2 linked regions of the Homo sapiens genome follow. The protein of the gene in region 2 interacts with the protein of the main gene of each other region in a pairwise test. Each region holds a gene or a part of one and is shown on either strand. Other genes may lie near its edges.

The links. The genes of interacting proteins can lie anywhere in the genome.
Region 1: the proteins of PLOD3 (region 2) and COL17A1 interact in binary tests that used the Homo sapiens proteins (3 or more experiments, as listed by UniProt).

The regions. Positions count from the first base shown.
Region 1 is NC_000010.11:104,030,534-104,033,880, reverse strand, and holds the end of COL17A1 (collagen alpha-1(XVII) chain), read left to right. Parts: intron 1-505; coding exon 506-643; intron 644-912; coding exon 913-975; intron 976-1,126; coding exon 1,127-1,207; intron 1,208-1,590; coding exon 1,591-1,646; 3' UTR 1,647-2,595; downstream 2,596-3,347. UniProt on the Homo sapiens protein: May play a role in the integrity of hemidesmosome and the attachment of basal keratinocytes to the underlying basement membrane. The 120 kDa linear IgA disease antigen is an anchoring filament component involved in dermal-epidermal cohesion.
Region 2 is NC_000007.14:101,207,275-101,211,279, reverse strand, and holds part of PLOD3 (multifunctional procollagen lysine hydroxylase and glycosyltransferase LH3 precursor), read left to right. Parts: intron 1-606; coding exon 607-748; intron 749-835; coding exon 836-949; intron 950-1,118; coding exon 1,119-1,187; intron 1,188-2,322; coding exon 2,323-2,427; intron 2,428-3,555; coding exon 3,556-3,702; intron 3,703-4,005. UniProt on the Homo sapiens protein: Multifunctional enzyme that catalyzes a series of essential post-translational modifications on Lys residues in procollagen. Plays a redundant role in catalyzing the formation of hydroxylysine residues in -Xaa-Lys-Gly- sequences in collagens.

The DNA.
Region 1 (3,347 bases), on a different chromosome or scaffold from region 2:
TTTCTTGTTTGTGGAACCCCCAGGCTGTGAAGACAGAATCAAGCAGGCAGGGGCTGGAGGGGACAGGCAGCCCCAGCCTAGCTCTCAGCCTACTCAGCTTAAGGAGCCCCAGTCCTGGGACCCGAGCTGTGGGGAACAGAGCACGCTGGGGGCTTTGTACTTTGTTTTCCCAACACCTAGCTCGTTCTGGGTCCCAGATGAGTCATATGACCATGCTGGATTTTCTGCTGGGGCCGAGAGAAGGATGTTGGCTAAGAGTCCTTTCCCCGCGCAGCTTAACGGCACAGTTACGCAGTCAACAAGCTTTTGATGCCGGCCCACAGCAGGAAGAGACCTGTGCCAGTCACACAGTGGAATACAAAGGAAGTTGGAGGGCTTCACCCTTGCTGCGGCTTGATCTAGTTCAACTGCTTTGGGAGTTTGACACTCGGAGGGCACTGTGCTCCTGCTGAAGAGGGTACTGGGAGATCCCTGCTTCCTGTGCCCAAGCTCTGGTGTTTTACAGGTCAGGGCCTACTGCAAGGGATGGCCTACACTGTCCAGGGCCCACCAGGCCAGCCTGGGCCACAGGGGCCACCCGGCATCAGCAAGGTCTTCTCTGCCTACAGCAACGTGACTGCGGACCTCATGGACTTCTTCCAAAGTAAGGGCATCCAACTGCTTTCCCAGCACCTGCCTCACTGCATAGGTTCCCACGGGTCTGCTCCAGAGACACCAGTCTCATGAGAAATCTCCAGTTATTAACATTTGAGATGCTCAAAATTAGACAAATTCTATAAATTCTGAACTTTGTTTCCTCTTACACGTCCAAACTCCATCACTATCTCTCTGTGTTACTCTGAACAAATGACTTGATGTCCCAAGCTTCCAGGTGATCAAGACTCTAAGGCCAGTGTTTCCTTGCTTTTGCAGCTTATGGAGCCATTCAAGGACCCCCTGGGCAAAAAGGAGAGATGGGCACTCCAGGACCCAAAGGTAAGTGGTGGCAGAGAGCCAGTCCCTGGATCCTGTGTTAACACCCACCTCGTACTGAAAAGCAGCTCCTGTGCTGGTGCCACACCGGCTACCTGTGCCCTCAGTCCCCAGACTCATGTATTACTTAGTTACGCCCCATTTTTCCTTCCAGGTGACAGGGGCCCTGCTGGGCCACCAGGTCATCCTGGGCCACCTGGCCCTCGAGGACACAAGGGAGAAAAAGGAGACAAAGGTAAGTGTTGACTGCTCCACGTTTTGCATGTTCTGGAGGGCTGCAAGGCTGACGCTCATTAGAGAAGCAGGTGATTTGTTCCAGAGCAAGCCTGAGAAATTCAGGCAAATGCCAATTACTCCAGGCAGACACTGCCAAAAGCAGAATTTGCATAACAATCCCATTCACAGTGAGGAAGAAAAGGAGAGTGTCAAAGCAGGGAGGAAAAGGAGAACCAAGCTGGTGTTGAAATGGGGCAAACAAGTTAAATAAATGTAGTCTTACAAAAGATTTCACCTTTGAAGCCATCTTTGCAGTAGTCACGGTTGCCATAATTGCCCAAGCCAAGATCCCCACAGGCCACAAGATATGTTTTAACTTCCTACTGATCTTCTAACTTTCAGGTGACCAAGTCTATGCTGGGCGGAGAAGGAGAAGAAGTATTGCTGTCAAGCCGTGAGCTAGCCATGGCAGGACAGCTCCTGGACCAGGTCTCATAATGCATGTGGCACTTAGGTCCAAGGTCTCCAGAGGGTGAAAGCTGGAGTCTGTCAATGTCCTACTGAGACAGCACAGCCAACCTAGCTAGCAACATTTGTTTTAGTCTGAACAATATATACTTATAGAATTCAGTCAAAGATACACAATCTGAAACAGCTTCATGGGGTGGACTCTAACAGTAGTTGCAATGTTTTAGAATGAGACTTACTTCTCTGCTATCTAGATCTGAACTCCTTGGCTTCTTTACTTAGTTCAAGCCCCAGCCTAGGAAAGCCAGTTACATAAAAGTTGGCTCAGGAGTCTTAGAGCTTTACCTAAATATGAGCCCAGAAAACGGAGGATGGGGGTGGGGCGCCTTCCTGGAGGTGACACTTGATGGGGGTGTGTTCTGGTTACTGTTCTAAGGCTGTGCCATCAGCTCCTTCCTCCCCTGTTCATTCTGCATTCTCTAGTCAGTTGGCTAAGAAGTGACTCTTGCAACTAAAAAAATTAAGAAATTCACTTCCCCTCTAGGAGGTGATGATAGGGTTTCTAATGGTTATATGTATATCACATTCCCATTTGCTTAGAAAGTCTGATTGTAGCTATGATTGTCCGTAGGCCCATACTAGAGTTCATGGATATGTTATACTGAACCAGGCCAGAGCAAACAGAAAAAGAAGGTTGAGGGCAATGGACAAGGAAGGAATAAAGGGAGAAGAGGGAAAACAGAAAACCTGATGCTGGGGACACAGCATCAGCTCAAGACGTCACCCTCCATTCTGCACTCAGAAAATGGCACTTGGGGGACTGGGCGCAGTTGGTCTTTAACCACTTTTCAATGTCTAAAAACATTTGTTTGTGGTCTATAAGATGAAACATCATTTCAATCGTAAAATTTCCCATTAAAGAAGTTTTTTTTTCTAATATCATGTTTAATGTGATTCGTCTGACCAAAGAAAGATTAAAAAATAGTCTGGGTTAATTGGGTCTGATTCTAACACTGTTTATTACAAACACAAGAAAACAAAAGTGGTTGTATTTTGGGGCATAGCTTCTGGTATTTCATTCAATCCCTGAGGTCTTCAAAGGCAAATCTTTAGATACCTGCAACTATGAACTCAATCTGGGGATTTTACAAAGCACATGAAAGTTTTCCCCAAGCATAAGTTATTTGAAATAAACATGCAACAAATGAGCAAGAAGATTACTTGCAATTAGGTAGTGCTTTATCCTGGGGCAATGGAATTATGATTGTAGGGCAAGTAATATATGGAATATAGAAACTTCTATTAAAGAAAAATGTACAAATCTCAAATGCCCCAAAGAAATGCACAGTAAAATCAGACACTCCAATTGAGAAGAGACTCTACTTAGCCACTTTGTGAATTTGTTACAAGTTGTGACTCTCAAATTGCTGGATAATTAAAAATGGGATTAAATTGCATCTATTTCTACACCACTACTCTTCTAAAAAGACTTTATTTTCCATAAGGTCTCTGCTGAGTATCTCATATTATCCCAGAAAAAACACTCCACTTGTTTCCTCTATATCAAACAACCGCTAACGGCAACAACCAGTCAAGCACTACACACTCTACGTGGTCTTTTTGCCTCTTTTATTATATCCTGATAATTGCCTGCTATGAATTAATGAGAATTTTTTAAAAATAAGGCTGGG
Region 2 (4,005 bases):
TGAACTTGGGAGGTTGAGGCTGCAGTGAGCCATGTTTCCACCACTGCACTCCAGCCTGGAAACAGAGGGAGACCCTTTCTCAAGAAAATAAAAAACAAGGGCCGGCCGCGGTGGCTGACGCCTGTAATCCCAGCACTTTGGAAGGCAGAGGCAGGTGGATTACTCGAGGTCAGGAGTTCGAGACCAGCCTGGCCAACATGGTGAAACCCCATCTCTACCAAAAATACAAAAATCAGCCGGGCATGGTGGCTGGCACCTCTAATCCCAGCTATTTGGGAGGCTAAGGTGGGAGAATTGCTTGAACCTGGGAGGTGGAGGTTGCAGTGAGCCAAGATCACACCACTGCATTCCAGCCTGGGTGACAGAGCAAGACTCCGTCTCAAAAACCAAAAACAAGAAACAAAAAAGAAGTGCCACAGCTTGGGGTAGGAACTGACCGCATTTTGGGAGGTGGGGTGGTTGGGACCAGCAGTGCTTGACAAGGGACATGCAGGGGCCTTATGTTCAGGGACTGGGATACCCTGAGGGAAGAAGGACTTCCCGGGATGAGCTGGGCAGAATTTGGGGGGCTGTCCTCCCAGCTGACCGCGGTGTCGGTGCCTCCAGGGGTGTGTGGAATGTACCATACATCTCCCAGGCCTATGTGATCCGGGGTGATACCCTGCGGATGGAGCTGCCCCAGAGGGATGTGTTCTCGGGCAGTGACACAGACCCGGACATGGCCTTCTGTAAGAGCTTTCGAGACAAGGTGAGCGCGGGTGCACGGTCTGGCCTGGGGGCAGTCCCCCAGACTCCAGGCATCGCCTGCATCACGGACACCCCCACCCCACTACAGGGCATCTTCCTCCATCTGAGCAATCAGCATGAATTTGGCCGGCTCCTGGCCACTTCCAGATACGACACGGAGCACCTGCACCCCGACCTCTGGCAGATCTTCGACAACCCCGTCGTGAGTGGGGACCCCACGCCCAGAGCACACAGGTTCCCCGCCTTGTGCTAAGGAAGACACCAAACGTGATGGCTGCTGCCAGCGCAGGACACTGAGTGGGAGGGGGCGGTCCCCTGGGGGCTGGGAGCGAGGGGGGCACAGATCTGATGTGCCCCCCACCCTCTCACAGGACTGGAAGGAGCAGTACATCCACGAGAACTACAGCCGGGCCCTGGAAGGGGAAGGAATCGTGGAGCAGGTGAGCCCACGCAGCCTCCCCACCCACCCCCTGCCCTCATGGCCATCGCCTCTTGGGGGCCCCCGCCTGGATTCAAAGTTTTCACACTGAGTTCCCCAGAGATCTGAGGGTTTTCTGTTCAGACAAGATGAAGGCAGAGGCCGAACAGAAAGGACTCTTGCCCCCAAAGCCAGCATTGATCAGACAGCCTCTTCTCCTGTATATTGGGTATACTGGTGTTATGCTTGAAATCACATCTTAAAAGAAGAATGGGGCTGGGCTCAGTGGCTCATGCCTGTAATCCCAGCACTTTGGGAGGCCAAGGTGGGTGGATCGGTTGAGGCCAGAAGTCCAAGACCAGCCTGGGCAACATAGCGAGAATCTGTCTCTACAACAACAACAAAAAAATTAAATAAGAAATGAGGCCAGGAGTGGTGCTCATGCTTGTAATCCCAGTACATTGAGAGGCCGAGGCAGGCAGATCACCTGAGGTCAGGAGTTCGAGACCAGCCTGGCCAACATGGCAAATCCTGTCTCTACCAAAAAAAAAAAAAAAAAAAACACAAAAATTAGTCAGGTGTGATGGCGTGCACCTGTAGTCCCAGCTACTCGGGAGGCTGAGGTGGGAGAATCGCTTGAACCTGGGAGGCAGAGGTTGCAGTGAGCCAAGATCACGCCACTGCACTCCACCTTGGGTGACACAGCGAGACCCTGTCTCAAAAAAAAAAGAAAAGAAAAAATTAGCTTGGCATGGTGGCATGTGCCTGTAGTTCCAGCTACTTGGGAGTCTGAGGCGGGAGGATCGCTTGAGCCCAGAAGGTCGAGGCTGTAGTGAGCTATGATTGTGCCACTGCACTCCAGCCTGGTTGACAGAGCAATACCCTATCTCAAAAAAAAAAAAAAGAGGTATGCACTGTTACGGAAGTTTGGAAACCACTGTCCCAGCACGAGGGGCTCCAGGACCCTCTGCCACCTCTCCTGTGCCAGAAACCGGTCCTCAGCCTTGCCACTCCCTCAGCCCCTACCTGGCGGGTCCCCGGCTGCTCTCACAAAGCCTTCCCTGCTCCTCCCTGCCCCTTCCCATTCTGCCTGCTGCCTGTCCCCTTCCCCGTTCTGCGGCGTCAGCTAGCCCTGTTCTCCCTCGCCCCATCCTCAGCCATGCCCGGACGTGTACTGGTTCCCACTGCTGTCAGAACAAATGTGTGATGAGCTGGTGGCAGAGATGGAGCACTACGGCCAGTGGTCAGGCGGCCGGCATGAGGTAAGGGCCTGGGCGAGGAGGGCAGAGGCCTTCCCAGAGGAGGAGGTGCAGGATCTGGTAAACAAACAATGGAATCAGGAAAATGGGAGCAAAGAGGGGTTCCCAGGGGGGAGGCAGACCCTGGGGTCACAACTGCATTCATTCATGTATTCAAGAAATATTTACTGCTGGGCACAGTGGCTCATGCCTGTAATCCTAGCACTTTGGGAGGCTGAGGCGGGAGGATTGCTCGAGCAGGGGGAGTTTGAGGCCAGCCTGGGCAACATAGCGAGACCCTGTCTCTACAAAAAATTTAAAAATTAGCCGAGTTTGGGCCAGGTGCGGTGGCTCACGCCTGTAATCCCAGCACTTTGGGAGGCCGAGGCAGGTGGATCACCTGGGGTCAGGAGTTCGAGACCAGCCTGACCAACATGGAGAAACCCCATCTCTACTAAAAACACAAAATTAGCCGGGCATGGTGGCGGGCGCCTGTAGTCCCAGCTACTCGGGAGCTGAGGTAGAATTGCTTGAACCCGGGAGGCAGAGGTTGCAGTGAGCCAAGATTGAACTCCAGGCTGGGCAACAAGAGTGAAACTCCATCTCAGAAAAACCAACAAATTAGCCGGGCATGGTGGCATGTCCCAGCTATTCAGGAGGCTGAGGCAGAAGGATCACTTGAGCCCCAGAGTTAGAGGCTGCAGTGAGCTATGATCATGCCGCAGTACTCCAGCCTGGGTGACAGAGCAAGACTCTGTCTCTAAAAAAAGAGAAAAGGAAATCATTCCTGGGCCACTGTCCTAGACTGCACTGCAGGAATGCCTCATGCCGGTCGAGCTCTGCCCTGCTGTGAGCAGCAGCCACCACACAGCTTCTAAGGCTGCGATGAGCAGCCTGGGTGCAATAGAAGCCACGGGGAAGCCTTGACCCAGACTTGGGAGGAGTAGGGAGCTTCACAGGACAGGTGACATCTTAGCTGAGACTTGAAGGGCCGGGAGCAGTGAGTCAGGCCGAGAAGTAGCAAAGAAGACTGTTCTGCACAGAGGAACACAGGTGTGAAGGCTGGAGGACGGGAGGAAGGAGGCTGGACTGCCCTGGGGTGGGGAGCGCCATGGCTGGAGGGGCGGGTGGCTCAGTGCCCGCCGCCCCCAGGATTCAAGGCTGGCTGGAGGCTACGAGAATGTGCCCACCGTGGACATCCACATGAAGCAGGTGGGGTACGAGGACCAGTGGCTGCAGCTGCTGCGGACGTATGTGGGCCCCATGACCGAGAGCCTGTTTCCCGGTTACCACACCAAGGTGCGCTGCCCACCTGCCAGCTGCCTCCCCACCTTCCCCACCCCAGTCCCGGACAGGAAGTCTCCACGCAGACCCCTTTCGGCCCCGGCAGCATTTGGGCTCCATGCATTTTAGTTCCCAGGGGAATGAGACGCTGCAGGAGGCACCCCAGGGGAGGGAGGGCGCCAGGCTGAGACCCAAGGTGAGGCTTGGCCCTAATTTAATGCCAGTGAGCAGCGAGAGCCTCCTACGCAGGGGTCCCGCCGCCCCTCCCCTCCCCTCCCTGGACAGGGACCGTCATCTCCCTGAAGACACCCTGCGATG